3 separate regions of the Homo sapiens genome follow, and all the other regions are linked to region 3. The links come from fine-mapping of genetic effects on gene expression. A gene starts in region 3. Each other region holds a variant in brackets. All regions are shown on one strand. Distances are between the middles of the regions. Region 1 overlaps CSMD2 (CUB and Sushi multiple domains 2). Region 2 has its middle 230 kb from the start of C1orf94. Region 3 holds the start of ZSCAN20 (zinc finger and SCAN domain containing 20).

The links.
Region 1: its variant is fine-mapped to the expression of ZSCAN20 in aorta (GTEx, PIP 0.95).
Region 2: its variant is fine-mapped to the expression of ZSCAN20 in monocytes (Fairfax 2014, PIP 0.95).

Annotation. Positions count from the first base shown.
Region 1 is chr1:33,569,204-33,579,440 of GRCh38, reverse strand. CSMD2 (CUB and Sushi multiple domains 2) reads left to right here. Exons shown (of 71, transcript NM_001281956.2): 49 at 1,957-2,145; 50 at 6,750-6,935; 51 at 7,715-7,909; 52 at 9,894-10,067. Among named protein-coding and RNA genes, the nearest start is that of ZSCAN20, 100 kb to the right of the region's middle. RefSeq lists an enhancer at 5,113-5,282. The variant A/C (reference allele first, on the strand shown) is at 3,850.
Region 2 is chr1:34,400,837-34,411,073 of GRCh38, reverse strand. No RefSeq gene overlaps it. Among named protein-coding and RNA genes, the nearest start is that of C1orf94, 230 kb to the right of the region's middle. The variant C/G (reference allele first, on the strand shown) is at 5,246.
Region 3 is chr1:33,467,336-33,477,572 of GRCh38, reverse strand. It overlaps ZSCAN20 (zinc finger and SCAN domain containing 20), which reads right to left and starts at 4,928. Exons shown (of 8, transcript NM_001377376.1): 1 at 4,882-4,928. It also overlaps the pseudogene TLR12P. RefSeq lists a silencer at 6,671-6,965 and enhancers at 8,355-8,879, 8,880-9,406.

The DNA.
Region 1 (10,237 bases), 100 kb before region 3:
TCCAACCTCTCCTTTCCCTGGTGCACACGGAGAGGGGTCTGGGTGGCTGCAATGACTGAGTGCCCCAATGTCAGTGACCAGCTCTCTCACCTACTAGCTGTGGGATTATTAGGCAAGGTACTTAACCACTTCAGGCTTCAGTGTCCGCATGATGGAAAAGAAACTTTAAGGTGCCTCTTAGGGCTGAGTTCCTGGCAGCTGCTCACTCAAACAGGAAATATAGCAGTTTGGTAGCATTTCACTATGCTGGTTGCTAAATTAGGAACTGAACGTTATTAAGGAGTTACCCTTTCCTTGATGTTCTAACGTGTTTGGGGATAATGAGTCAGTTGTAATTACAATACATATGCCACGTAGAAAGTGAGTTAATTACATGGCGCAACAATTAGTACTTAATAATTCAGATCGAGTAGATGAGTGTAATTTGCACCTGCGTCTGTCACTGTGACTAAGTATATTTTACAACCGAGATTCTTGTTCCTGAGGGAGGTAACCATGTGGATACAGCACACATAGGACACAGCGGGCAAAGCAGGAGTAGGGAAACAAATTCGGCTTGGAAGGCAGCTATTTAAAACAACCATTTCACCGGCAGACGGATATGATCACCAAGAAAGAGGCCGGGGACCTCACCAGGGGTGGCTGTAAGGGCCCCACACGCGCATCCTGCCTTATCCATCTCTGCCTGGAAGACCCCACCAGGGACTCCTAGGGCAAACAAAGAGAATTATCTGCCTGCTCCTTTGGTCATCCCTCTTTCCTGGCCTCACAGAACTCCCCCTGAGGATCCCTGGCAGGCTTTATAATGTGAGTCCTTTCAGGCTGGGATTTTTTGTTTTGTTTTTTTTGTTTGCTTGTTTTTTGAGACAGAGTCTCACTCTGTCACCCACGCTGGAGTGCAATGGCATGAGCTCATCTCCCTGCAGCCTCCACCTCCTGGGTTCAAGTGATTCTCCTGCCTTAGCCTCCCGAGTAGCTGGGACTACGGGCACGCACCACCACGCCTGGCCAATTTTTATATTGTTAGTAGAGATGAGGTTTCACCATTTTGGCCAGGTTGGTCTTGAACTCCTGGCCTCAAGTGATCCACTGGCCTCAGCCTCACAAAGTGCTGGGATTACTGGCGTGAGCCCAGGCCAGGGTTTTGGTCTGTTTTCTTCACTGTTGTATTGCAAGCACTTAGAACAATATCTGGAAGATAATAGATACTTGATGTCTATTTGTTGAATAAATGAATGAAATAAGTTGAAGCCATATGTGGAGGGGAAATGAGCACTGTAGGGAAATGTGTGTCCCAGGTTGCCACAGGTCAGTCTCAGCACATTCCCCCACACAGCACAAAGAAGGACAATGACCACTTACTGAGCATTGAACAGTGAGTGCCCCATGCTGTGCTGGGGGCTTTATGTACGCAATCTACATATACAGCTTAAATTGCCCAAAAATCTGTGAGGTGGGTATTACCAGTCCCAATTTACAGGCGAGGAAATTGGAGCTGAAGTGATTTGCCCCAAGTTACAGAAACTGGTCAGATCAGAAACGGGACTGGAGCCCAGCCCTCACTAAGGTCAAAGTCCACACCCCCGCAGTCGCAGCTTTCTGGAACCAACCCCATTGGGTTCTACTTTCTAAGTCTGTTTCGGAGCTGAAGGGATTTGAGAGCCTGAACTTAGCCATACACCAGATCTACCTTTGGACCGCAAAAGGGACCCAGTGCTTCATGAAGCTGGTTTTTTTTGTTTTGTTTTGTTTTGTTTCCGTTGTTTTGTTTCGGCTTTACCAACCTGACTGGGTGTTTTTCAATATCCACCATTCAGACTTTCCTCAACAGCAGAGGATGTGGCAGTGGCAAAGACAAGGGGATGGGGGGGAGACGAAAGGGAAAGGGGCCTGCATGAAAGACCATGTCTGTCTTCCTGCTGGTGCCAGTTCCCTGAACCTCATCTTGTTGTTCAGCCCCTTACTGCAGCCTGCCCAGGGCTCCACTCCATGGCTTCATCCTAGGCCAGACCAGCACCCAGCCCGGGGGCTCCATCCACTTTGGCTGCAACGCCGGCTACCGCCTGGTGGGACACAGCATGGCCATCTGTACCCGGCACCCCCAGGGCTACCACCTGTGGAGCGAAGCCATCCCTCTCTGTCAAGGTGAGAAGCAGGTGGAAAGGGGGTCACAAGGTAGCTCGGATCCAACTCATATCTTGGGTTTGTCCCAGGACTAGTCACTTCCAAATGTGGGTTTCCTCTTTGATAATTATTTCATTCTTTCCACAAGCATTTACAAGATCTGTAGTGCGTAGCAATCTCAGTGTTTTGAGATCCATGGGGGAGATGGGTATGTGAGCACATCAATGCAAAGTGGCAGAGGAAGGAAGTGTCGTGTCAGGAGCATAATCAGTGTTGTGGGAGCCCAGAGGTGAGAAAGGATCTGCTTCCTCCTGGCCAGCTGGGGAGGGCTCCCAGCAGAGGGGATGCTTGGGTTCCGGCTCATAGAGCAAGTGGGTTGATCAAACACTTGAAATGTGTCAGTCAATTTGCATGCATTACCTTTTATGATTTATGATTTTATGATTTATGACAGTTTTTTCCCTTCAAGTAATATACATTCAAACTAAAAATCTGAAGAAGAAAAAAAAAAACGGTAGATAATGCAAAAGAAAAAAAGTGAAAATGAACAATAAACCTGAGATCACCACTGTTAACATTTCAGCACATTTCCTTTGGTCTTTTATGTATTGATTATAAAAATAGGATCATCCGTGTACAAAGCTCTTATAGATTTTGTTTCCCATAATGCTGTGCAACCACTGAAAATCATGGTGAGGAAGTATATTTAACTATATACTATTTTTTGAGACAGAGTCTCCCTCTGTCGCCCAGGCTGGAGTCCAGTGGCATGATCTCAGCTCACTGCAACCTCTGCCTCCTGGGTTCAAGCAATTCTCCTGTCTCAGCCTCCCGAGTAGCTGGGATTACAGTCACCCGCCACCATGCCTGGCTAATTTTTGTACTTTTAGTAGAGACAGGGTTTCACCATATTGGTCCGGCTGGTCTCAAACTGCTGACCTCAGGTGATCCGCCCACCTCGGTCTCCCAGAGTGCTGTGATTACAGGTGTGAGCCACCGCGCCTGGACTCTATTGTTAATATTATACTTCGTCACCATTATTTTCAATAGTTGCACAGCATTATGAGAAAATTGTCATTCATTTAAGTATCATTCTCTTGTTGGTCATTTGGATTTCTATATTCTTTGTGACGATAAACTTATAATTCCATCTTTATGAATATTACATATTTCCTTAAGGCAAATTCTCAGAAATGAGATTCTCGCATCATAACGTATGCGATTGACAGCTGTCGATACTGATTGCCTCCCAGAAAGTTTGTCCTCATGTATAGCAGCATGTGAGAACTGTCTTTTCTCCCACAGTCTCAACGTTAGGCACTGCATTTAAAAAAAGAAGAAAACATTGCCAACTACATAGACAAAAACAGGAAATCACATTGCTATTTGATTTTTCCTTTGGTTCCCAGTAGTGGTGAAGTACTTTTTAATGACATCTCTCATCTCTAATCCTCACAACCTTCTCGCCTGTGCCTGTGCTTTCTCAAAGAACAAAAACAATGTGCTATTAATAATCTACTCTACCCCTAAGCAAAGGTCACAGTGAACTGGCTGTCCACAAATGGCAAATGGCATTTGGCTTTGGTCTCTGCGTCTCTAACTGCATTAACAAGGACAAGTCTTTTTTCCGGAGCGCCAGTTGGAACCTACTAAGCCTCTCATTTCTGTTACCTTACATCACCACCCAAAATTAAGCCTCCACCAGACTTCAGTTGACCCATCCCC[A/C]TACTACTGTGCATGTCTTCTCCCCACTGCACCCCTTGCCTCCCACTGATGCCCTTCCTCTAAGCCTCCCACTGTGTTCTCTGGAATCCTAGTTCCGTGGCCAGCAAGCGTACACCCTCAGTCCCTACCCAGCTGGCTGTCTTCACTTCCTCCCTCCATGGAGACCATGGCTGTCCTCTGAGAGCACGTATGCTGTGGCCCTTTCAAGTGGATTGTTAATCCCCCTCCACCCACCTCCTACTTCCCACAGAATTCTGGGCCAGGAAGGGCCTGGCATTATTCCACTTCTCTACTGCTGTTTCCAAACCATGACTTTTCCACTCTTCCTTTAGAGACTCTATGCCTCCTAATGCCTTCTCTCTCCTTCCCCAGCCCACTCTCTCACCTGTGTCTCTCTCCCTCAGAGATCTCATTCCACCACAAGCCTCAAATACTTTGTGATTGTATCCCCTCCTCCTCCTACCCACAGGAAGTGTCCCTCTTACCACCGGGTTTTGGGGACTGCATTTTGGCATGGAGATCATGAGACACAGGCTTTTAGTATCTCAGGCTGGAGTATTATCTTCTGTCCCCTTAGTTATCTACAAGAGCAAGGCCAGGCCAGGGCCTGTGAGAAGTGGCTGCCGCCCACTTCCTTCACTGCCCTCCCTGGATTGACTCTCCATGCAAGACACCAGTGGAGATCCAAGTATTTCTTCCCAAAGGATTTAAGGAAGCTGGGCAGGTAGTTGATGTAATATGACAGCTTAGCTAACCTAGTTCCACTGAAGGAGCTCATAGCCTTTCTGATTAGTCATTAAGAGTCTCATGTTTAAACACTCTCTTATTTCTCATTCCTTCTGTGTTCCTGATCCTCCTCTTCTGGAAAGTCCCACACTTAGATCCTTCTTCCATCTTGGTATTCCAACTTCTCTCCCTCTGAACAGTCTACCCTCCTCCATTCATAATGGAGCCCCAGCCTGATGCCTCTTATTGGTTCTGGAAATTCTTATAGCATCAAGCATCTTGTTAGGCAATCTCAATGGGACTCTGCCCAAGCTTATTCTGGCTCTAAGCGAAAAAGTTCTGAGCTCTAGACTAGTAGCCAGAGGGGATAGTGGATGGAGGCAGTAGTGGGTACTTTGACGGATTAATCTTTCCATCTGTAATACCCCCTGAGCTGTCAAAGAGCAAGGATGATTTATAAGTATTACTTTCTTTCAAAGACCAAACAGTCTACTCTTGCCTAAGTAATTCCTATTCCTCCTATAAACATAATGTCGACCCTACTCCTTATAAAATAATAATCCTGGCCATGTTGCTGCAAACATTTCTCTCCTGAGTTGTCCCTTTGAGATTCCTTTTCTTTGTATTCTTGAGTTAGTTCTGTCATTTTTCATATCTCATATATTGTCCTTTCCTGGTTTTCACCCTCTTTTTCATGGGGTATATCCTTAAGTAAATTCCTCAGAAAGGGTTCACAAGAGGTGCATTTTCTGAGACTTTACATGTCTGAAAGTGTCTATCTTTTTGCCCTCACACATGTTTGGTCAGTTGACTGGGTAAAATTCTAGTTTATAAATCATTTTCTTCAGAGGTTTAAAGCTTTGTTCCATTATCTTTGAACACTCACTGCTGATGGGAAGTCTTATGCCAGTTTGATTCTCGTTCCTTCACAGTTATGTCATTTTTTTTTCCCTCTTTCTAGTAATTTGGAGGAATGCCTGTGTGTCTCTGGACTTCTTAGATACACAAAATTCCGTGATGGTGAATCTAAGAGGGATTCTCTTTGCATTCCTTTGGCTCCCTTTCCATCTGAAGACTTGTGTCTCTCTTCAGCTCTGAGAAATTTTCATCTATGATAATTCCATCCCATCCACTTTTTGTGTTCTCTCTTTTTGGAGCTCTGAACAGTTGGATGCTGGACCTTCTGTATTGAGGATTGATCCGTGTTTTCTGTCATTTTCTCTCATTTTCGGTCTCTTTTTTTTCTATATTCTGAGAAATTTACTTTTCATCTCTAATCCTATAATGCTTATTTCGGCAATCATATTTTTCATTTCAAAGAGTTTGTCCTTGTTTTTTTTTTGTTTGTTTTTTTTTCCTTCAGAGCACACTGATTTTATTTTATGAGTACCGTATGTCACCTTGACTTTCTCAAGATACTACTGATCAGAAGTTTAAAGATTGTGTATCTTCTGTTTTCTAAATTAGCTCTGTTTCCTAAGGGGACATTTATTTTAAACTTTATCTTGGTTTGTCTTGTTCGCACTGCTGATTTTCTTCACATGTATAATGATCCTTGATCGTATTTTAAAAGTAAGGGCCAGGTTGATTTTTCCAGCTATGAGATGTGGATTACGTTTGTTATTTTTATATACAGATATCTTGGTCCACAAAGTCTCTCCTATCAGTGAGAGGTTGAGTTGAGTATGTGGCAGACCTGAGTAGGCAATGGGGCAGCCTTTAGGCCAAGAGACCATAAATCCTAGAATTAAAAGAGCTTTCCTCTGGGATGCCAACTCCCACCATAACAGCCCTAATTCATCCTAAGAGAGATCCCCCCTCAGTGGAAAAGAAAATTCTCTCTTTCGTTTGGAGAGTAGATACTTGAATGTGTCTACACTGTGTTTGTGGGAACAGATGGCGGAGAACTGGTTTCACCCTGAGGCTCCCTCCCATATATTTTGAGCTACAGCTTCTTTGCACTTCTATCTTTATTCCTTCTTCCAAACTTAAAAAAAAAAAGAAGAAAAAACTCTTCTGCTGATGATCCTCCCATTTTCTTTTTTATTATGATACTTTACCCTTTAATTAGTTTTTACTAATAAAAGGACCTTGGGAGGGGAGGAAGGATAAAAATAGTTTCTCAGAATACCATCTTAAAACAAATGCTCATGACATTGTTTTCCTTTTGCTAGCTCTTTCCTGTGGGCTTCCTGAGGCCCCCAAGAATGGAATGGTGTTTGGCAAGGAGTACACAGTGGGAACCAAGGCCATGTACAGCTGCAGTGAAGGCTACCACCTCCAGGCAGGCGCTGAGGCCACTGCAGAGTGTCTGGACACAGGCCTATGGAGCAACCGCAATGTCCCACCACAGTGTGTCCGTGAGTCCTCGGGCAATGGAGGCGGGTGTAAGGAAGGGCTAGGTAGGCAGCTGGAAAGATTCCTGCAAGGAGTGAGCTAAAAGCAAAGTAATGAGGGGGAAAAAAAAAAAAAAACATGGACATGGAGGTTGGAGGATTTCAGAAGAGGAGGCAGGTGCTGAAACTGCTCTCAGCATTGATAACCATTGTGCCCTAAGATGTTTCCACAAACCACCATGGAACTTAGGAATGGCCTGGTCCACTCCCTTTTAGATGGAAAACCTGTCAGAAAGTTTGCATGAATGTCCCTTGATTCCAAAGCTCTAAAAACAACAACTTTTAGGCCAGATCACAAAATGGCAACCTCCTCGACTATGTCCCATCCAAAGACAGAGGTTTTTGTTTTGTTTTGTTTTTTGGCCTACACGGTGCTTTATAACAAATTTTGAATTACTCCACAATCTTTTAAAATCAAGAAATTTTACATTAAAATCCAGATTTCTGTCTTCTCTTGAAAAATGAAAATCTAATCAAATGCAACTCAAACATTCAATAGTCAACCTTGACTGAGTACTATTTCCCTTTTTTAATTTTTAATTTTTTAGCAGAACTGTACTCCCCAGTTTGCCACATCCCCCACCCAACCCACCTGTTCATTTACCAAACCTGCCTGAGAACTGAAGATTCCTGGATTCTTCATTATTGCATTAAGGTCTCCAAGTCCCTAGATCTGGGCTCTTACAAGGTCTTCCAGAATTAATCAAGTAATTAATCCTCCTTTCTTTTCCTCATTTCCCCAGCTGTGACTTGTCCTGATGTCAGTAGCATCAGCGTGGAGCATGGCCGATGGAGGCTTATCTTTGAGACACAGTATCAGTTCCAGGCCCAGCTGATGCTCATCTGTGACCCTGGCTACTACTATACTGGCCAAAGGGTCATCCGCTGTCAGGCCAATGGCAAATGGAGCCTCGGGGACTCTACGCCCACCTGCCGAAGTAAGCCCAGGAAGGGAGGGTGGGCAAGTTTAGCAGGGTCCCTCCTACCTAAGCTGTCTCATGCATGGAGTGAACTGGGGTGGGGGAAAAAGGGGTATCACCAGGGATTGCAGTGTACTGCTTTTTAAACTCTCATCTAGTAGAATCAGGAGCTGGGAAAATGCCTACTCCTTTACTCCTTTAAGGAAGTATTTCTTAGCATCTTCTCATCTTATCAAAAGCTGCTTTTGTCCAGATGAGCATGCACTAATTCATTTCTTTAATATTCTTAGGCTCTTACTATATGCCAGACACTGTAGAGGTTTGAAGATAAAAGATTTTGGTTCCTGCCCACAAGGACTTTATAGTCTACTGGAGAGGCAGACACATAAAGAAGTGATGATAATGTGGTGCGATAAGACCTGAAATGGGAGTGTATATAGGAGGAATGAGGGTAGCACAGGCGACAGGTCACCTAAACCTGCCTGCCTTCTCCATTGTCAATTGTTTTTCTTTGGTTCTTTAATACACTTTCAAAGGTCGGAATCTCTGGGAAGACACTCTGAGACAGAGGCTTATTAGGGGGTGCTCTTGAGAACACCACCTACAGAAGGGAAAGGAGGGAAGGAAGCAGGACTGGGCAGAAGGAGAATTGAGCTCTGATGCAGTATCCATGAAAGCCTTAGCTCACCCCCCAGGGAGCTCTGGATGGCCCTTCAGAATTGTCACAAGTTGGAGCAAGGGAACTGTTATACTGCCACACTGACCAGCCACTGGATGCAGGCTGGCCTAGGAATGGGACATGACCTTCCTAGGTGGGAGGACTCCTCAACCACAGCAATCTGAAAAGGGCTGCCAGCCAAGGGTTGTTTTCCAGCAGCTGGGGAAATAAGTCCCTCGGTCCTAAAAGGGGCTCTGAGTAGCTCATCGCAGCATGCACTACGATAGGGATATGCTCATCATATTTATGTGACCAATGCAGATGTCACAGAGGAGGCAAGTGATTGTAAAGAGGTAGAAGGAAGTGGTCAGTGAGAAGTGGGAGTTTGAAACTGGGAAGGAGGAGAAATGGTGTCTTCCAATGCCTGTGATCCAGGTTGGGCATAGATCCCAGCATTTGAGAGGCTGAAGTGGGTGGATCACTTGAGGTCAGGAGTTCGAGACCAGCCTGGCCGACATGGTGAAACCCTGTCTCTACTAAAAAAAAAAAAAAAAAAAATTAGCCAGCATGGTGGTGCCCACCTGTAATCCCAGCTACTTGGGAGGCTGAGGCAAAAGAATTGTTTGAACCTAGGAGGCAGAGGTTGCAGGGAGCCAAGACTGTGCCACTGCACTCCAGCCTGGACGACTGTGCAAGACTCCGTCTCAAAAAAAAAAAAAAAAAAAGCCAATGTCCGTGATTCATGACACTGTTGTCTTTGCACACTGTGGTGCAGACTGCACAGTGGGATGTAACCACATATGTGGCAGAGTAGTCCCAAGCGTTTGGCAGCCTCACTACAATGCAGCCACTCACATTTCAGTGCAGCCTTGGCGATTAGGCCTCACCTCATACATCAGCCAGAGGCTCTCAGCAGTGCTCTGTTGACAAAGAGTGTGAGGCTGCTGGGCTCAGAAAAGAAGGGCAAGGAAATTGATTAGCAGTGTCTGCCCAGGGCACTCAGGAGCATACCACAGAATCGCCATCTCTTCCTAACCACAGTGCACATCTCAGCCACCTGAGGAGGATTAAAAAAATACACAGGCCAGGGCGCTATCTGCAAAGCTGGTGAGTCAGGCACCTGCAGTGGAGCCGGGCATTTTAAATAACCTTCAGGGGCTTCTGGAGACACCTCCAGTTGAGGTGCCACATCACACAAGTCAGCAACACAACCCATATTCTGGTCAGGAATTCCAGCAGAGTAAGGTTAAACAGGTCTTATTTTTGTCACAGTTCTTGCTAAGCAGAAGCAGCCATGTCCCTCCTCTTGGGGCTGGCTTACTGAGCATCTTGTGATCATTTTAGTCATCTCCTGTGGAGAGCTCCCGATTCCCCCCAATGGCCACCGCATCGGAACACTGTCTGTCTACGGGGCAACAGCCATCTTCTCCTGCAATTCCGGATACACACTGGTGGGCTCCAGGGTGCGTGAGTGCATGGCCAATGGGCTCTGGAGTGGCTCTGAAGTCCGCTGCCTTGGTAAGTGACCTCTGCAGGCCTATCCTGCCCAGTTTTTCTCCTTGAGATAGATTAGATCTTTCCAAAGCTGAGATCCAGTCTTTAAACAGTATCATTTCACCTATTGACATAAAATGCTTAATCCAAACACCAACTATTGGCCATCAGGCATGACTAAAACCCTGGAACAG
Region 2 (10,237 bases), 930 kb before region 3:
GGCTAGGTAAGCCCAAAACCTGCAGGGCAGACCACTGGAAAGGACAGGCTGGAACTCCTAGGTGTGGGGTGGAGCTGCTGCCCACAGATAGACATTTGTCTTCCTCAGGGAAGCCTCAGCTCTGTTCTCAAGGCCTTTCAACTGATCAAATCAGGCCTACACCAATATCTAGGGTGATTTACCTTACTTTGAGTCCACTGATTATGGACTACACATCTACAAAATATCCACCTAGATTTGTGCTTGATGGAGTTACTGGGGACTGCAGCCTAGCCAAGTTGACACATAAAATGACCACTCCAAAGCGCTTTGTCCATTCTCCGTATAACAGAGACCCTAATAATTTAGAACAAGACTTATTAGAGGGGCTCTTTGGCTGTGCCTTGATGTTGGTCACAATAGCATAGCAAGCTCCAACTGGCTGGTTGTCAGTCACTACCTAAAGTAGCAAGGAGCCAACTGAGGGAGCATGGGTGGCTTGTTACTCATTTGCCCAAAAGTCCATAGAAGAATTTCATGGCCCCAGGCAGAAGCTGCAAAGAACTGAGCTCCCTGTTGCCACAGGTGTAACATGAGGGTACTGATACCCACTTCAGAGGGTGTTTTTGAGGATTAAATGAGCTAGAAATGACTTGTAAACTGCAGCTATACATATGTATCAGAGTTTCTGATCGAGACTATAAAATAATTTATACGTATCTGTCTCCAGGTCTAAATGTCTTCACTTATAAGACTAGTGTTCCTCACTTATTACCAATCAGCTTTAGCTTTGTTAATAAACTAGATTTCAACAATGTAATAATAAAGCTCAACCTTAAAAAGCATGAATCAGTATTTTAGAAAGTTATGCGAAGCTATTTCAAGAAGTGTGGTAGGAATGACATTTATGTGACTTGTTTCATACATAATCTTGGAAAACGCCTACTTATCTTCTCACATGTAACCGAAATGTTGCGTCCTTGGTGAAGGCTGCCCTAATGTGCCCAGGCCTGGTTATGGGCCTCATCACAGGGTGACCACTGATGACGGATGTCCAGAGACAGACTTAGCCACTTGCAGCCTACCTCAGCTGTCACCACCTAACATGCACCTCCAAACGCCATCCCCAAATCCTACAGTCCTGCCTGTTAGTGTATTTAGAGCCCCTTTCTGCTTGGTGAGTGGGATGAAGGGGGTCTGGAAACCTGGTCCTATCACACCTGGTGTCTGTTGTCCCTGAGGACCTGAGCCCCTGGATTGAGCTGAAGCTCCTTTCCTCCAATGGGTGAGCCACCATGCTTTAGGCACTATGCTAAATGCTGTACATGAATCATTTCAGCTAACATTTATAGATTTACTGCCTCTTACATTTTAGCCACTTTCCTAAGAACTTCATATATATTAATTTACATAACCATCATAACTCTATGAGTAGGTACTATCCTTGTTCCCATTGTACAATTGAGCTTAAAAGACTTGTCCAAAGTCATACAGATTGGTAAGTGACAGAGCTGGTTTATAAATCCGGGTTCTTCTAACTCCATGGCCAATGTCCTTAGCCATGACCCCATATAGCCTCCACAAAACAGCCTAGATAGTCCTGTCTCTATTTCACTCTGCCACCTGCCCCTCCTACACACACACACACACACACACACACACACACAAACAAAAAAACAAAAAAACAAACAAAAAAAAAACACTTTCAGGCACCTGAGATATTACTGTAGTTTGGAGTCTGTGGTAACCTTAACTTTGCAGTTTGGGCTCCTGAGTCCTCTCAAGTAACCCGGTTAATTCCTCAGTTAATTCCTAATCTTCTGTTTGCCTGTCTTACTCTCTCACCCCCCTCCATCAGTCCTCCAGCAGACATAGAATTAAAAAAAAAAACAAAACTGAAGAGCCAAGTCCACTTTCCTGTGACCATCGATCCAGGCTTCTATTCACTCATGGATCCCACCGCACCATCTATATCTGATGGTGCATCTGTCTCTTCACTGGCCTGTTCACTCCTTTCGGGCAAAGATTGGATCTTACTTACCTTTCTCTCCTCAGATCCCAACTCAGAGGACTCAATGAAAGGGTGAGTTATCTGCAACATTAGTGGGAAACCTCTGCTCAGGCACGAGGTGGAAATAGGGCCAGTGGGAAAAATTAAGGGGATTAGAGGGGGGCAGATAAACCTCATGGCTGCTGGCTGAGTGGAGATTGGAGAGTGGCAGTTTGCATTTCCACTGAGAGCTGGGGACTTAGGGAGCTGAGGAATTCATATCAGGGCTATGGTTCTTCCCAGAATCAGCTATGCAATGATGTTGACAGGGCCGGCCCCCTGATTCTGTCGAAGCATCATTGTCCGGATTTCTCTGCCATTTGCATTTATTGAATTTCACTCTTATTTCCAGGGAAAGCATGACAAAGATACAAATGGTAGCACCTTAACCAGTTTAGAGGAAGGTCATGAGGGAAAGAGAACAAAAGGGAAGAAGGCGAGGGGGCAAGAAGAAAGGAAGGAGAAGAGAGAAGAGGAGATGGGGAAAAAGCAAAAGCATGGGGGAAGGGAGAGAGAATATTTCAAACTGACTTCAAGAGGCTTTGTGGTGTGGATGTTAAGAAATCACAGATTAGAGGGTTCTAAAAGAATCTCTACCATCTGTCTTCAGAGTCTCAATTTTGCCCCTGTAAAATGGGCAGTAACAAACTTGCCCTTCACGCTAAACTTTGCCATGAAGAAGGATTTAGGCATGATCTCAAGAATGTGGTGCATTCCTTCCCAAGAATGTCACGAGTCTTGGTGAGTTGTTTTGCAAGATTTGGGACAGCTTAATACTGAGATGGAGAAATAGTTAATTTGCCAGACTTCCAGGAAGGCTGTGGAAGGCAGAGCAGCCTCACAGGGCTCTTGATTCGAGAGGCAATTGGAACAGGGCTAACTGGACCATCCCTCCCAGTGGGGCTGCATGTTTAGGTCAAGGTCTCTTGGCAGGAGCAGCAGGTTTGAATGAAAGCAGGGCTTGAGGGAGTGCACTAGAACAGCAGTATGCAGTCTTTGGTCCCTTAAAAATTATGGAAGACCCTGGCCGGGTGCAGTGGCTCATACCTCTAATCCCAGCACTTTGGGAGGCCAAGGCGGGCGGATAACGAGGTCAAGAGATCGAGATCATCCTGGCCAACATGATGAAACCCCGTATTTACTAAAATACAAAAATTAGCTGGGCATGGCGGCGAGCGCCTGTAGTCCCAGCTACTTGGGAGGCTGAGGCAGGAGAATTGCTTGTACCTGGGAGGCAGAGGTTGCAGCGAGCCGAGATTGCACCACTGCACTCCAGCCTGGCAATAGAGCAAGACTCCGTCTCAAAAAAAAAATTGTGGAAGACTCCAAAAACTTTTATGTTTTTTTAAACCCATTGGTTTTAAAAAAATATATTGGTAATTCAAACTGAGGACATTTTAAGATACCAGAATGCGCAAGCACACATTTCATTGGCCCTCCAATCAGTGACATCATCAGGCATCAGGTAGATGCTGGAGAACTTCTCTGTGCACTTGACAGAGCATGAGAGTGGAAAATGCAAACCACATTTGGCGTGGTTATGAAAACAGTTTAGATCTCTCAGACACCTGTGTACTCCCTGGCCCACCCTGTGAGAACCTCTGAACTACAGACGTGGCAGAATGTTACACCAGATGGAAATCCTGCTGTAACTCTTCAAGACCTCAGACAAGGCGGTGACCTCATGTGATCACAACTGCGATTGGATTTCTTGAGCTATGTGTACCAGTTAATGTGCAAACAAGTCAGAATGATTCACTCAGCCAGAGGCACAAAACTAGAGGGCTCCAGAGAGAAGTACAGTCAGGAATTTGGGGAAATCACAGAAAGGGCCCTGGATCCACGTGAGGTATGAAATTTGAGGATTTGGATCCACTTCGTCTAAATCTGCCAGAAGCAGAAATGCCCTGTGTATCATCTAGGTTCAAACTTGTTGCTGTAAGTTCAAAAATATAACTCTTCCCAAAGGCCTTGAGCCTATAGCAGCATCTGCACTCCCCTTATGAGGTCAGCGTCTGTGCTCAGCCCTACCAGCCCCCTCCCCTTTCCCAGTGCTAGAGAAAACATAAAGCCACTGCAATCAAAATGAAATGTCAAATTTTTAAAAACCCGAGGAACAGCTGTAATTTGCAAGGAGACAGAATGCAATTAGCATACACTTGTCAGAACGGGAGATGGCTCTGTGAGCCCTTTATTGCCTTAGTTTTATTAAGACTGGACTGATTATTACAGTTTCATTTGCTGTTTGCCCCATTAATGGCCAAAGCAGAACAATAAACAGGAAGGCAGTGGAGAGCGTTTAGGAGCAGCATGCCATGCCCTTGAGGGTCTTCATGGAGGTGAGAGAGGAACCAGGTACCTGCGTGTGATTTTGTTTGGAGAAAGGGGAAATGAGGGCCTCAGCAAGGATCCTTCAACCTCTAGTCTACCAGCACTTTTTGTAACTTTTGCTTCCTGGATCGCAGTGCTTTGGGATAGAGGCCAAGAAAATCAGGGCAGAAAGTAAACAATCACAGTGTTAACCTGGTAATCTAGATGAGGCCCTGTGGGGAGATGGGAAATTAGAGTTCCCTAGGCATGTCCCAGGGTGGTCTTTAAATTATTCTGCCGGGGCACTATTCTCTGCTAGGGGACATTTGTCTGCAATCGCTGCTGCCTGCTGGGCCTCTACCCCTGCTCTTACCTGACCTTGCACTGGGGGTTGTTCCCTGAACCCCAGTCCTGCTCTGATTGCCACTGCAGGAGTTTCTGCAGCCCTTGAATCAGACTCAGCCTCCCTGGGTGGGAGGCAGTGGGGTTGCCCCCCAGTCTGTCATCTGTGCTCACAGTCCTGCTGGAGTCTCTTCCGTGGGCTCCATTAAAGGACATGGAGCCTGCTCATTGAGTGAGCGCAACCTGAAGATACGACCGAAGAACAGTTTTATTTTTGCTCCCATTCTTCTTTTAAAATTTATTCAGTGAGGCCCATTTTTTCCCTTGCCTGAGGATGAAATGTCTGTGTCAGGCAGGCCCCATAATTTTCTCCCGGCTTTAAGGTAATAAAAAGATCTCTGGTCACTTTAAACCGCAAATAGTCTCAATTCAGTAATTAAAATGGTCTATTCCTAGATAATAAAAATTCTGGACTTGTTTTAATGCCAGCTAAAGGGGTCCTTTACAGTGGAGAAGCAGCGGGGTCTTTGGCTTCCCAGCCCAGTGTTTCTCCTTCTCTGCCAG[C/G]TGACCTGGGAGTTTCCGAGGTTTCTGACCCTTTCAGGGTTTGACTGGTAGAAGGTGGGGTAGGAGGAAGAGGGAGTGTCTCCAGGAAGCAGACATAGGTCTGTAGGCTGAGGCTTCCTCTCTGGACACCTTCTTCCAGCCTCATGAAGACCCCTTAACCTCCAGTTTTGCAGCACTATCTGCCACACAGCAGAATCAACTCACTGGAATATCTTTGCCCAGGTTCAGATTGCTTCTTAGAAAATCTGGGTGGCTGCAGGACAGTGCACTGTCCTTGCTGAGAAAGTGGGGCTCAGTTTGTCCTGCTGAGGTAGGGATTCCCATCTCTGCCTACATTGTTCTGTCTGTTTTGCTTTCTCAGGCTGACAGGCACTGCCTCTCACTTGAGATTCCACAGTAGTTTGTGTGGGAGTCAGACATCAGTTTAAGTGTTCCCACCACTCCAGGGGCCACATTGTGGGGCCTCTATGGGTCCCATTAATGGTACTTCTATAGCTGCAGGTGAAGGAGGTAATATAGACCACCATCACTGGCTTTTTGTTTTTCAACTCTAGTCACTCTTTAACTCTCTCTTGCATATTTTCATCTTGATCAGAGGTCCTGCTGAGAGGTCTAAGGATTGTGAAATTTGTTCTCAGCCTCTTCACTTTGGTAGGCAGCATCAATTATGTTGAAATTGCCTTTTTAACATCCTGTAATGACACTCATTGGATGCCCAGTGGCTGCACTCTCTCCTTCTGGGAATGGTGCTTGGGCAGGTTTGGGAAGCTGCTCTACCTCCCTCCTCAGCCATGTGGCTTGACAGAGAGGTGGCCCCATCCCAGCTCCAGCAGTGGGTCCTGATGGGTGTAGGCCAATCAGCATATTCTCTCCCTCTAACCACAGGGATTGACTCAGCCATGGGCACCTCCTATGGCTTGAATGTGTTCCCTCAGAAGCATGTGTTGGAAATTTACTCCCCATTGCAACAGTATTGGGAGGTAAGGCCTAATGGGAGGTATTAAGGTAATAAGGGCTCTACTCTCATGAATGGATTAATGCTGATTACAAACTATAAAAGGGCTTGAGATTGAGAGTTCAATCTCTTGTTCTCTTGACCTCTCTTTGCTTTTCTGCCATAGGACGATGCAGCAGCAAGGGCTTTGCCAGATGCTGGCCCCTCAGTCTTGGACTTCCCAGCCCCTAGAATCATGAGACAATACATTTCTATTCATTATAAATTATCTAGCCTCAGGTATTATGTTATAGCAGCACAAGGTGGATCTAGGCAAAAAATTGGTACTGGAGAAGTTGGTGTTGCTATGATAAATACCTGAAAATGTGAACATGGCTTTGGAGCTGGGTAATGGGCAGAGGCTGGGAGAGTTTGGAGGAGCAGGCTAGAAAAACCCTGTATTGCAGTGAATGGAGCATTAAAGGGGATTCTGGTAAGGACTCAGAAAAAAGAAGAACTGGAAGAAAAATCTGGAACTTCTTAGAGATTACTTAAGTGGCTATGATCAGAATGTTGGTAGAAATATGAACAGCAAAGGCCATTCCGATGAGGTCTCAGATGGAAAAGAGGAATATCGTATTGGAAACTGGAGTAAAGGCCTTCCTTGTTATGAAGTGGCAAAGAACTTGGTTGAATTGTGTCTATGCCCCAGGGCTTTATGGAGGGCAGAATTTAAGAGCGATGAACTAGAGTATCTGGTGGAAAAAATTTCTAAGCAAAATATTTAAGAAGCTGCATGGCTTCTTTTAACTGCATGCAATAAAATGAGAGAGATGATTTAAAGAGAGAATTTATAATTAAAAGGAAACAGAACTTAGGGATTTGAAGGATGCTCAGTTTGGTCATGTGATAGAGAATGAAAGAGCATTTTCAGGAGAGAAAACCAACGCTGTGGCCAAGCCACTGACTGATAACAAGATTAGTATGCATAAAATGAAGCCAGAGGCTATTCTTCAAGACAATGGAAGAACAAACCATAAGGTACTTTGTAGATTACTAGTGCTGTTCTTCCTACCAGAGGCCCAGAATGCCAAAGTCAAATGACTTCTGGTGGTAGCAGAGAAATAAGCTATACCTTATAGCCTAGGTGTGTAGTAACTGGACCATCTCGGTCTGTGCAAGTACACTCTATGATGTTCACACAATGACAAAATTGCCTAATAAAATATTTCTCAGAACTTAGCCCTGAATTAAGTGATGTATGACTGTATGCCAAAAAAGAGGCCTAGGGCACCCTGGGGACCTTGAGGCTCACTGTCCAGAGCTGCCTCAAGTCTCTGCTCCTGAAATTTTGGCAAAATGCTCCCAGGTCACTCCAGGTGTGGCTCAAGGGGGGTCAGGTGTGGCTCAGGCCACAGTTTCAGATGAAGCAAACAGCAAATCTTGGGTAGCATCCATGTGGTGTTAAGTCTGCAGGTGTGCAAATGCAAAAGCTGTGGAGCACAGTTTCTTCCATGTAGGTTTCAAAGGATATCTCAGGCAGCCTGGATGCTCAGGCAGAGACTCATCCCAGGGGTGGAGTCACTGCAGGGAGTCCCATGAGGGCAATGCTTAGTGGAGTCATGAGGATGGGATCACCCCCAAAACTCCAGAACTGTAGAGCTACCAGCATGCAACACCAGCCTGGGAGAGTGGCAGATACCTGACTTTAGCCAGTAAGAGCTGCTATATGGGCTGAGCTTGGTAAAGCTATAGGGGCAGGGCTGTTGGAGTCCTTGTGGACTCAACCCCCATGTCAGTGTGCCCAGAGGTGGAACATGGAATCAAGGAAGATTATTCTGGAGCCCCAAGATTTAATGTTATTTGTCTTTTGGGGTTTTGGACTTACTTGGGACTAGTTGTCCTTGTCTTCTTGCCTATTTCCCCCTTTTGGAGTGGGAATGTCTATTCTATGCTTGTCTCACCATTATTTTGGAAGTAGGTAACTCTCTTGGTTTCACAGGCTCACAGTTGGAAGGAAATTTGCCTTAGTATGAATCCTGCCTTGAGTCTTACCTGTATCTGATTTAGATAAGACTCTGACTTTGGACTTTTGAGTTGATGTTGGAATGAGTTAAGACTTCTGGGGCTATGAGATGGAATGAATATATTTTATATGTAAGAAGGACATAAATCTTGGGGGCCAGATGTGAAATGATATGGTTTGAATGTATCCCCCAAAAGCATATATTGGAAACTTAATCCTCAATGTAACAGTATTGGGAGGTGGGGCCTAATGGGAGGCGTTTAGGTCATGAGGGCTCCACATTCATAAATAGATTAATGCTAGTTATGAATTATAAAAGAGGATAACGCTGCAAGTTCAATCTCTTGTTCTCTCTTGTTCTCTCTTTGCCCTTCTGCCATGGAGGATGCAGCAGCAAGGCCCTTGCCAGATGCTGACCCCTCACTTTTGGACTTCCCAGGCTCCAGAACCATGAGCCAATAAATTTCTATTCATTATAAATTACCCAGTCTCAGGTATTATGTTATGGCAGCACAAAGTGGACTAGGACAGCACCCAAACAATCAGCACAGAGAGAGGCGAGGAAACATGCTGAGGATTTTGCGTGGGAAGATGCAGTCTCTGTTCTGTGGGAATGACCAAAAAAAGACCACTTCTCTTCCCCTAGGCAGTCAGGTCTAGGGGAGACTGTGAGGTCTGCAATTTTGATGGCCATTTTACTGACACAAGGGGAGAGTGTGGAGCTACCAGGGTCCACCATGTGTACCCTGAAGATGAGCCAAGACCACAGCCTTCTGTGGTCTTGGCTTATCTGTGCCTTGATCATGAGAAATCAGGTCCTGGTGACATCAATTGAGTCACCAGGTCAGGTCTCCTAAAGCTAGTTTTCAACTGGGGGGGATTTTGCTCCTTCTCCCCAAGGGGACATTTAACAATATCTGGAGGCATTTTTGATTGTCATAACTTGGGAGGTGGGGGAGGTGCTACTGACATCTAGTGGGTAGAGATCAGGGATGCTGCCAAATATCCTACAGTACACAGGACAGCTCCCAAAACAAAGAATCATCCAGCCCAAAATGTCAGTAGCAATGAGGTTAAAAAACCATGCTCTAACACCAAAACTGTATCTGGACTTTTCAATCATATGAGCCAATGTGTTTATTTTATTTGTTTTAATATGCAGTTGGTTTTCCTACGATTTGCAGTTGAAAGAATCCTGACTGACAGTTCCTAAAACAGGACACCTTCTCATTCCCAAGTTCCCTCCTCAGAGCCTCACCTAAGGCCTGCAGGCCCCTCCCAGGAATCACCGTTCTTGACATAGTCACTGTTTCTGCCTCCTTGGTAGACACTTTTCAGAAATAGTGTCCTCCACTCCAGGAATCCCCATGAAAAATCCCATCTTCTCAAGTCTTAAAGATACTTGGATGAAAGCATTTACAATTTTGCCCAAAAATTTCAAGATCACAATTTAAAAATTTTAGTATGAACTATTTCAGACCTACAGAATAAGTGCTCACCATCCTGCTTAAGAAATACATCCCTTTTCCTAATAGCACTTTCCTTTCCCTCCTCAAGAGAAAACAGTTTCCTAAATTTGGTGCTTATCTTCTCATGCTTATTTTTTGTATAGTATCTTCTCTTCATATATTCCTAAATACTATATTTCTTTGAATCTTTTATATACACTTATATAAATGATATCATGTGGTATGTATTCTCATGACTTGTTTTCTTTGTAATGTGTCTTAGAATCCACCAGACTGCTTTAGGTAGCTTTGGGTTCTTCTGGTCTATGTGATGTTTCCTTATGTGAATTTAGATATCCATCCTCGTGGTGAAGCTCAGCCCAATTTTTCCACAAGTAAAAAGATGCCTCTGTGGAGATTCATGAGCCTGTGTCCTAGAGCACATGTACACAAGCTTCTATTGCATTCACCTAGAAGTGAATGTTGAGTTGTAGTGTGTGTGCACTTTCACATCCTACTAGCTGTTGCCAAATTGGTCTCGAAGGTCACCTGAAATTTACTCATGCTATATATGTTGTAAAGAT
Region 3 (10,237 bases):
ACACTGTATGAGACATTGTATGAGAAGGATGTGCGTATCTATGTGTGTCCCAGAGGAGATTACAGCCTCTCTGATGGCACCCATGCTGGGTTATTTGAAAAAATGAGCTCTCTGTGTCATCCCAACAAGTCTGGGTGACATAAAAAATGCCCACTCAAAGGAGATCATTAGCTGCTTCCAAGTGGGAATGACACAACTGAATTGAGAATGGAGAGATGGTGGTATTTTTCATTTTGGGCAATCTGACTGGACTGAAGAGAAACAAGACAAGGGTAATAAAAATTAAAGTCTTGCCCTAAAGGCCTCCATATGCTTAGGAAGAGGCTTAAAGCACAACTCATGGCTACCTGGCAGCTTCCTACTCATCCTTCAACCACCAGCTCAAATGTCACCTCCTTTGATAGGAGTTCCTTGACATGCCCTTTTCATGTCCTGCCCTCCAAGAATTGCCTCCCTGATCCTATATCACCAAAGCAATTGGTACATACCTCTAATATAGGTATTATCCTACACTATTGTAGTTACCTGTTACTATATCTGACACCCACATTATACTATATTACTAGAATCAGTATTGTATGTTACTAATTTCTGTATCCACAGTGCTCAACCCAGTATCTGATAAATAGCAGGGCCATTAAAAAGTTTTATTACCATGTATTAAAATGATAAACCTGGCGTATCAAAAGCCTAATGGGATACAGATATTCCATAATTTATATTAAACTAAACTATTTCTGTCTACCTACATTACTGCTATAAGCACTCAGAGAGATCACATATGTAGAAAGATTTTGCCTTTCATGAAATTTCTTTTTGAACCTAAAGAATTCGCCTTTCATGAAATTTCTTTTTGAACCACAACCTTATTGATGCATGAGTTCAAACACATTTCTGTCACCCTCTCACACAAGGAGCAATTCATCAATCATTTATAGAGTACCAGCTATACCCTGTTTGGAAGCTACAGATCTACCAGTAGCTGGGACTGACAGTCCCTACCTTCAATAAAATTACAGTCTAGTGAGACAGACAGTCAATAAGCAAGCAAAGACATTTGCGTTCCTGCACAAACAGGACACTACAACAAAATAGGCAATTAGCAGTCACACCAGGCCCAAAGCTCAGAGTCTCAGATAATAGGTATTTTCTCCTGGAAAGACTTGAAAGTCCCAAAGGTTTGTTTCAAATAGAAATCGGAAAGCCCCAGGGACCACATATCACCATAACCTTTTTTTTCTAAGGAACCATAACCGTAACTTTCTAAGGAAGTTAGACCGAAGTATGGATAGCAGGCTATTGTGGGGAGAGGGAGGCCAACAGAGTCGGCCAACAGCCGGGTGACTTCACACAGAAGTGAACAAGGGAAAATGGACCGGGGCATTCCTCAGTTCCGAGATGACCAGGAATATCGAGCCTCATTAGGACCAGCAATTTCTAAGAGTACCCCTTTACTGAGTGCCCACAAGGTGCCAGGCACAGTGCTGTGTTCCACATTCATAATCTCACTGAAGCCTCCAGGCAGCAACTGGAGTCTCATTAGGTGTTGAGCTGCATTTCACTGATCTGTAACTTCCACTGCAAAGATCAGAAAGAGAGAAAGAGGGCCGGGCGCGGTGGCTCACGCCTGTAATCCCAGCACTTTGGGAGGCCGAGGCAGGGAGATCACAAGGTCAGGAGTTCGAGACCAGCCTGGCCAACATGGTGAAACCCTGTCTCTACTAAAAATACAAAAAAAAAAAAAAAATAGCCAAGCGTGGTGGCTCGTACCTGTAATCCCAGCTACTCGGGAGGCTGAGGCAGGAGAATTGCTTAAACCCAGGAGGCGGAGGTTGCAGTGAGCTGAGATCGTGCCACTGCACTCCAGCCTGGGCAACAGAGCACGACTCTGTCTCAGAAAAAGAAGAAAAAAAAAAGAAAGAGAGAAAGAGCATGATTTAAATAGTGCAGCCAGTTGCGTTCACTATCTGTTCGAGAATAAGCATGTGGTGGTGGCACCTAGGACTTCGCTATTCACCAGGTTGGTCTTGATTCCCTCGTGCCTCTCTTTCCACTAAGTGTGAGTAAAGTGTCTTTCATACCGCACAGTCCCTAATACAAGCGAATTCTCATCTAATGTTCAAACAAGAAAGCCCAGCTGTGCTGATTAGTTTATTTATTGAAAGGCAGCGTGTTAGTTTCTGAAACGGCTCCTTGCCAAAGGATTTTCAAACTAACTGTGATTTTTGGCTAAAGTGATTTTCACCCTTAGAATATTATTATCTGATAAGGTATGACTGCACTATATCCTCAATTACCTAAAGGGAAACTGAGTGTTTATGAAGATTCACTTAAGGTTACACAACTAGCAAGTGGTAGAGTTAGGGTCTAAGCCGAGATCCCTTTTCTCCAATCATTTTTCTTAACCATGTCTTATAGCCTCCTCTATGTGTGCTAGTCATCCAAACTCTTAAGATGACAGTACGGGAGAATGGAAAGAACATTAAGGCAGGAGTGAGCAGACTGGGGTTCTAGTTCCACTCCTGCCACTAATCAGCTGTGTTACTTTGGACAAGTTATGTAGCCCCTGTGGCTGCCTAGCTAGGCTGCAGCTTACAGCCTGATCTTACTCAGCAGTTGCCCTAGGTTCCCCAATTAGTATGATGGGGTAGAGCAAGGGAGAAGGGAGACTAGAGTCAGTGGCTACAAGTTTAAATGGGTATAAGGACCTAGCAATGTAAATGAGTCAATGACTGAAATGAACTGGGTGGGCACTACAGCCAACTATAGAGTGCCAGGGGAACATATGCCCAGAATATTCCTAAGCCTGCTGATTTTTCCAAAAGAAACTAGCACTCTGGATTTTTAAATGTTGGTAACCAACTCAAAATTTTTTCACACACTATGAGATTAAATAAAGCATGATGGTGGACTTCATTCAGCATGGGCTGTCGCTTTGCCACTTAGATTCAGCTAAGTGATCTCAAAGCTCTCTTCCAATATCCAGAAAGACCTAGAAAGAGTACAGAGCCTCCCAGGTCATGAGGGATAAGTGCTGACTGCCATCAAAATCAAGATGTCTTTACAAACACAGGGAAGCTGAGGGGCATCTTGACTCCTAGGGCAGTAAGTATGAACGTGGTCATGAGGAGCCCACTCAGTGAAAAGGGAAGAGAAGATGCTCTCCAGTTCCACAGGAAAGGCCAAGACTGGTCTGTGACCTCCAAAGAGAAAAAACTGGGAACTCTTAAAGGCTGTCAGGCCCATTTGGCTGACAGTCCAAGCTATGGCTTAAAGCAGTCTGACCTGACCTCACACATAAGGGCTTAAGCCAGGGAGAGCAAATAGGTTTCATTTAAAGCAGAAACTTCAATCAACTGGAAGTGGCTGCCTAGAGTAGTGTGCTGAGGGCTCTGAGTACAGTGTGAATATGTGCTGAGAACCAACCAATTAGCCATGACTGCCAGGGACACAGGAAGGGGCACTGGCAGCACACATTCCATGTATTTGTCACCCCTGGCTTAAACTCCCATTGGCAATGAATCAGCTTCAGCTTCCAGCAGATAGCCTTGCCAGGCAGAGGAAGACTAAAGCTCCTGCCCTGGAAATCCACTGGCAATAGAAGTCTTCAAGGCTGGTATAGCAAAGCTTACCCTGCATGGTCTTCATTCACACATACATACATCAAGTATTTACTGCTTTACATCAAGTGTTTACTGCTCTAGACTGGGCAATGGGGAAACAGAGGTGATTGAGACACTGTTCCTGTCCTGGAGATGTTCACAGTCTAATGGAAGAGACACACACTTCACAGATAATTATGATCAAATGTGGTAATAGGAGAAGTTATGGGAGCTGAGGGTTGGGGGTGACTTAATTTGCTTAAGGGAATTGAGCAAAGTAAGAGTTGAAATTTTTTTAAGTTAAAGAAGTTCTCTTGGCAAAGAAGGTGAAGGGCAAGGAGAGAATATTCTAAGCTGAGAGAACAGCATATATAATGATGGAAAACCAAATGGCCTACCCAGGAAACGAGGAAAACCTTGACAGCCCTGGAGTGTGAGGTGCATGAAGATTAGGCTGCAAAAGGAGTTTATGAAGGACAAGGTGTTTGGACTTTACAGGTGCTGGGTGCCAATGAAAGTTTTCAAGCAGAAGGCATAATCAGATTTGTAGGTGAAACAGATCACACTAGGTGCAATGTGTGTGTTCATGCTGGGAAACTGAAAAGGCTTCTGCGAAAACCCTACAAGAAAGAGGCCGACTGAAAAGATATTAAAGAAATTAAAGATCGGAAGATCCTTGGACGTGGAAGAATGCAAGAGGAATCAGTGGGTAAGTAGGTAGGTAGGTAGGTAAATGGGATGATCGTGCCACTGACTTCCATAAGACATAAGGAAAGAAGTGCAGGTTTGGGGCAGAACACAATAGCCAGTCCCATCCACTGGGTTCCAGAGGTAACAATCATTAGGGAGGTAACAAATTAGATATGCTTGTTCTAGATGGGAAGGTAGAGATTGAAACACTATTTTTAAGGTCGGGCTTCAAGCTCAGGCCCTCTTCACTTCTTGCCAGGGCCCCAGACCCTCTATCCTTTCCTCTGTGGTCTCCAGACCTTTCTATGACTCTCCCACCTCCAAAACCTCCCTCAACCCCCTCACCTTCAGACCCTTCTAAGGCCCTCCTCATTCCCAGGGCCCTCTATCGCCTCCTCATCCCCGACCCCTGTATGACCCTTCCCATCTCCGGCCTCTACATCCTTTGACCGTCCCTCACCCTCCACCCCCACATATAAGCTTCTTTCTCCCCTCTCACCTTCCCCAGCCCCCTGTGTCACCACCACCTCCTAAGTCTCCAGCCCAGAGCCTGCGTCTCAGCTGCCCCCGCCCCGCCACCCGGACTCACCCACCGAGACACCCACTTCACAACAGGGCGGAAGTGCTCCCGGGCTCGTGCGGGGAATGCTGGGACGCGGAGTCCGAGCGGCGCCACCCTGGGAATGGAACGTCTGAGACCACAATTCCCAGAAGGAACCGCGCGAGCGCCGGGGGCGGCCCCCTCCGTTTGCTGCCTTTCAGACGTCTTCAGCCAATAGATATGTCATCTTCTAACGGACCCTGGCACTGGAACAAATCGGAACGGGCGCGACACATGGGGGCGGGACCTGTTGCGATCCTGGCCTTTTCCATAGGCTTCCGGATAACAGCACCGCCCAATGGGAGGGCACTCGAGCAGAAGGGGGCCCAGTTCTACTGAGGGGTCGAAGTGAGAGCCTCAGACCCTGAAAGATCAAAGCAGACACAATAAGAAATAAGAAGAGAGAATGACTAGAGGTGACCAGCCCGATAGGCAGGAGAGAACTGGACAGTTGTAGCTTTAATTTCCAGCTTACAGCTAAGCTGTGTGACTTTGGAAGAATTCTGAACCTCGTTCTCTTCAACCATAAAATGAGGGTAGTAATGGCATCCATGTCACAGAGTTTTGTGAACTTTCAATGAGATAATACACCTAAAACGATTAGCTCAGGGCCTGGCTCCTAATAATGCACAGCGATTGTTAGCTATTATTATGTAAATCAGTTAGTACAGAGCTTGGCACTTCCTAGGTGTTGGAAGAATGTTAATCATTATTACAAAATAATCCTCATATAAATGCGGGTGCTCTGTACCACTGTGAATACTTTGGGGCATGAACAATCTAATGTGGTGTTGAGAATGGGGGCTTTGTAGTCAGACATGGATCCAAATCCCAACTCAACTACTTCGCAGCTGTGTGGCCTTGAACAAATTACTGCCATCTATTTTGTCTTTGGAATTTTCATCTATAAAATGCAAGTAATGTAAGAGAACTTACATCACAGGGTGTTATGAAGGTTAAATGAGACTATTTAGGTAAAAGTCTCTGAAGTCAAGCTGCTTGTGTCTGAAAGTTCTTACTTTCAAATGAAGGATGCAGGTCATACCACCCGCGTTGTGAAACCTTGGGCAAATTACTTAGCTTCTTTATGCCTGCATTTTCCCAGCTGTAAAATGGGAATGATAATACTTGCCTCTTCCTGAGACAGTTGTTGAGAGGAATAAATGGGAGAAGGTATGTAAAGAGCGTGACACATGTCTGACACACAGAAAGTGTTTAATAATCATTAGCTAGTCCAGGCACGGAGGCTCATGCCTGTAATCCCAGCCCTCTGGGAGGCTGAGACGGAAGGATCGCTTTAGTCCAGGAGTTTGAGACCAGCCTGGGCAGCGAAGTGAGACCTCGTCTCTATTTTAAAAAATAGAAAATACAATAATATACATAATCATTAGCTATTATTATTATTACCAATGGTTATGCGGCTTAGGGAAAATTGACAATACCTAGCATCTGGTAAGAGCTCAATGCATGTTGGCTAGTGTTAAAATAGGAGAATTCTTAGCTTTAACGACCCAGTTTAAATTCCTTCTCTGTGAAACATGTTCCAACTTATTTGTAGTAATAACTCATGTGATTTTACTCAGTAAACATAATAACAACCCGTAAATACTCCTTGGTGTTGAAGTCTCACAGTAGCCCTATGAGATTGGTATTGTTTGCTCCACTTTACAAAGAGGGAATGAGACTTAGAGAAACGAAGTGACCTACTCAAGATCACAGAGCCAATAAGAACCAGGGCTGCGATTTGTCACCCCCTAGGCATGTGACTCCAAAGGTCCTACACTGCATGAGGAAGAGACCATATGTGGAAGTAGGAGGGTTTGAGATGGGGAGGGACAGTGCAACAGTGTGGGGTGCCAAGGGAGCCGGAAACATTTGAGAGAGTGTCAGGATCTGAAGCTGGAGAGGCAGCTTTGCAGGGTCAGGTAAGGACGTGTCCACTTCAGCATCATCTGCCCTAAGAGGAAGAAGGGAGGCGAGTGTGCAGAGAGAGGAGAGGACATCATTAGGACACAAGAGGGCGCGCCTCGCCCTCAATACAGCCTCGAATTATTCTATGGTTTCCCTTAGCCTTTGTCTAATTAAAGCCTGGCATTCTACAGAAGAGAAAAAACTAACGAAGTCCTCAAGAGGCCAACTGCCCTTTAGTGCCGTGTAGAAATAAGCAACAGAGCCTGAACCTGTTCCAGGTTCTCTCTGGTTCAGCACCCATCAGGATTTGGTTTGCAAGCGTTCTGTCTGCATTTGTCTACCAGGACTCTCTCTGATTTGGGCAGACACTAGGCTCTAAGGATGCAGAGATGAAGCAAACCTGGTCTCTGACCCCAGGGCCTGATCTCTAAACTTTCCCAATAGAGCGCTCCCATAAGTGAAGCCTTTTTGAGTTTTTGAGTTGAGCACACACTCCCAACATATGTGTATTTATTTACTTATAAATGATGTGCCTGTAATAGCTAACTTTCCTTGAACATTTGCAATGCATTATTAGGTCCTTCTCTCAGTGCTTTATATGTATTAACTCATTTAATACATCCAAAACCCTTTGAGGGAGAGTCTAACACTATCCCATATTACAGAAAAGGAAACTATGGTATAGAGAGGTTAAATAACATGCTAACGGCACGTGGCTAAAAAAGCAGGCAGTCTAGCTTCAGAATAAGGTAAGATTTTTAAAAAATAGAAATAGAAGTTATAACAGTTTCTTTGCAACCATAGTGTGATAATCTTGTGCACTCAGCTTTGGAGACCACTATTTCTGTGGCTTTCAGGCCTGTGATCAGTCCTTTGAGAAAGGGAGGTGCAGGAAATTGTGGGAGCCCAGGGGCAACAGTTATCTAGGCTGGGAGATCAGGAAAGGCTTCTGAAGAAAGTGATGGCTGAACTGCATCTTAAATAATACTTAAGAGTTCCCCAGGGAAAAGGTATTTTTCAGTGCAAGAACAGCATATGCAATGGCCCAGAGACAAAAGGTGTGATGATGTCCTGGGACCCACAGGTAGTCTAGCATAGTCAGAGTACAGAGTGACAAGGGGGTAGGCTTCTCCTCCCAGTGTTGCTATGAGGCTTAACTGGAGATAGATGGGAACAGGCCTTCATGTTTTTTATTGAGGGAACAGGCAATCAGTCTGCTGTCTCCTGGGCAGCATCCCAGCTTTTTGATCCTTAGCTGCCAATCCCTCTATAACCCAGATGGCAAAAGGGGTCCCTTGGCCCCTTGAAGATCTGGTTGAACTTGACCTGGACCCCATTCCACAGCTTAGGACTGGCCAAAGGCTTCTCTCTTTGCCCTCTCTCTCCATGAATTTCCAACCTTATTTCCTCTGGACTACAGTTTCTGTGAATCCAACCCTTTCACCTTCTGCCTCATTGTACTCCAGCCCGGACAACAAGAGCAAAACTGCATCTCAAAAAAAAAAAATTCAATCAAGCCAAGCATTCATGGATTTAGTACATTTATTGAGGGTTTGGAGATCTTGAGATTACATTACGTACCACATGGCCACCTGCCATCTCCCAGATTTTCTTATTCAGCCTCCAGAGCCTTCCCAAAGCCTGTGTTCCCATTTGATTCTCCCTTGCACACACAGTAGCCCCACCTTCTACTAAAAACTGAGTTCAGTCTCATAGCCCACACATACTCACTATCTCCCTGCCAAGCTGGCTTGCTTTTCTTACCCCCACCTTCCAACACACACGCACCCATTCTACCCTACCCCAGGGTGCTCCAGCCTGCTCCCTAACCAAGCCCAGAAGTCATTCTTTCTTTCCTCTTCCTTGGGCCACATGCAATAGTCTCTTCAGCGGAGCAACCAGGCCAATCTGTGGCAGCAAGGGAGCTAGTGGCGTAAGATGGGCTCCAGGAAGACCAGCAGTAGCCCTTGGGGGGTGGGGGACAGCCAGCAGAAAGGAGGTGGCCAGGAGGAGCTCCAGGCATCAGCAGGGGGTGTGCAGGGCCTGGTGACTCAGCACACAGAGCGTGACCCAGCTGCCCACCATGCTGTCTGCTGCATTGTCAGCCACATCCTTGCCTGGCTCAAAATCCCACTCATGGAGGCAGAGTGGCAGCCCCCGGCCAGCTGGAGGGCAGTCCTCTAGAGCAGGCAGCAGCTCCTGCACCATCCAGCCCTGGTCTTGCCTGCAGTGGGACACAAACACGTCATAGAGGAACCTCTTGCCTTTACCCTTCTGACTCCTCAGACTCTGGAACCAAACCCTGAGCAAGGCCTTGAGTTAGAGGATCCAGGAATTCCTGGCTTCCTTTAGGAAGGGCAAGGAGACCAGCAGAAGCAGCAGGGCAGAGCTGCGCAAAAAAGAGCTCCAACCCCAAAGTCTTGGGGCAGTGGCTCCAGAGAAAAGGGAAAAAGAGATTCTTTGAGTGGCCCCCAGCTTCTGAATGGCACAGCTGCTGTGATACTATGTGCATGTATGTTCTGGGGGACTGCTAAAGCCAGGGCCCCACGCAGGCATTGGCACACTGGCAGGCCAAGGATGAGGTCAGAATATAGATGTACTGGGGCATCCGAGGACTGTGCTCCTGGAGGCTGTCATCCAGCATGAAGTCTTTCTCCCTGTCTAGTACTAAGACCTGGAGACTGCCGAGGCCCCCAAAAGCAGCAGCAGACAGTGTCTCCAACCCTGTTTGGGACAGCTGCAGCATATCAAGCCTGGGCAACTCACCCACCAGCTCCTCAAGCCGCACTGGGCAGGGGCATGCTTGAGACTGCAGTGCCTGCAGCTTCAGCTCCTGTAGACTGGGCAGTCCCGTGATGCAGTAGGGCCTAGGGCTATGCCTGTTTCCCCATCCTTCAAGGACTTGAGCTTCGGGAGCTGCCAGAGGAAGAAGCTGGAGGTGTCCTGGGAACAGAGGGGCTCCAACCTACTGCCAAGCAGGGAGAGTTGATGAAGGGCAGGGAAGATCTTGGAGATATTCTGGGTCTCTAGCTGCAGTCCCCAGCCCTTTAAAGTCAGGATCTGCAAGACTGGAAAGACATTAGGAGACAACCTCCAATGCTTCATGCCTGAAACTGCGTGGAGCTCCAAGCTAGTCAGTCTTGTGAGCAGGGAAAATGCTACTCCCGCAGGGCCAAAGGGAAACTGTATTCTCAAGCTGTGCAGACTTTCTGGGCCCCGGAAGCCCCAGGTTGGGCTCAGCACCATGTGAGTACCTACCAGGTTTTGGGTGGTCAGTGTAGGCAGAGGAGCCAGCCAGCCCTCACCCAGGGTTACCAGTGGATTATTGCCCAAGTTCAAGGTCTGTAGCCTCTGTAGGCCCTGGAATACCTGGTCTTTCAAGCAAACCAGTTGGTTCCCTTGAAGTAGCAGCTCCCGCAGGTGGGGCAAACAG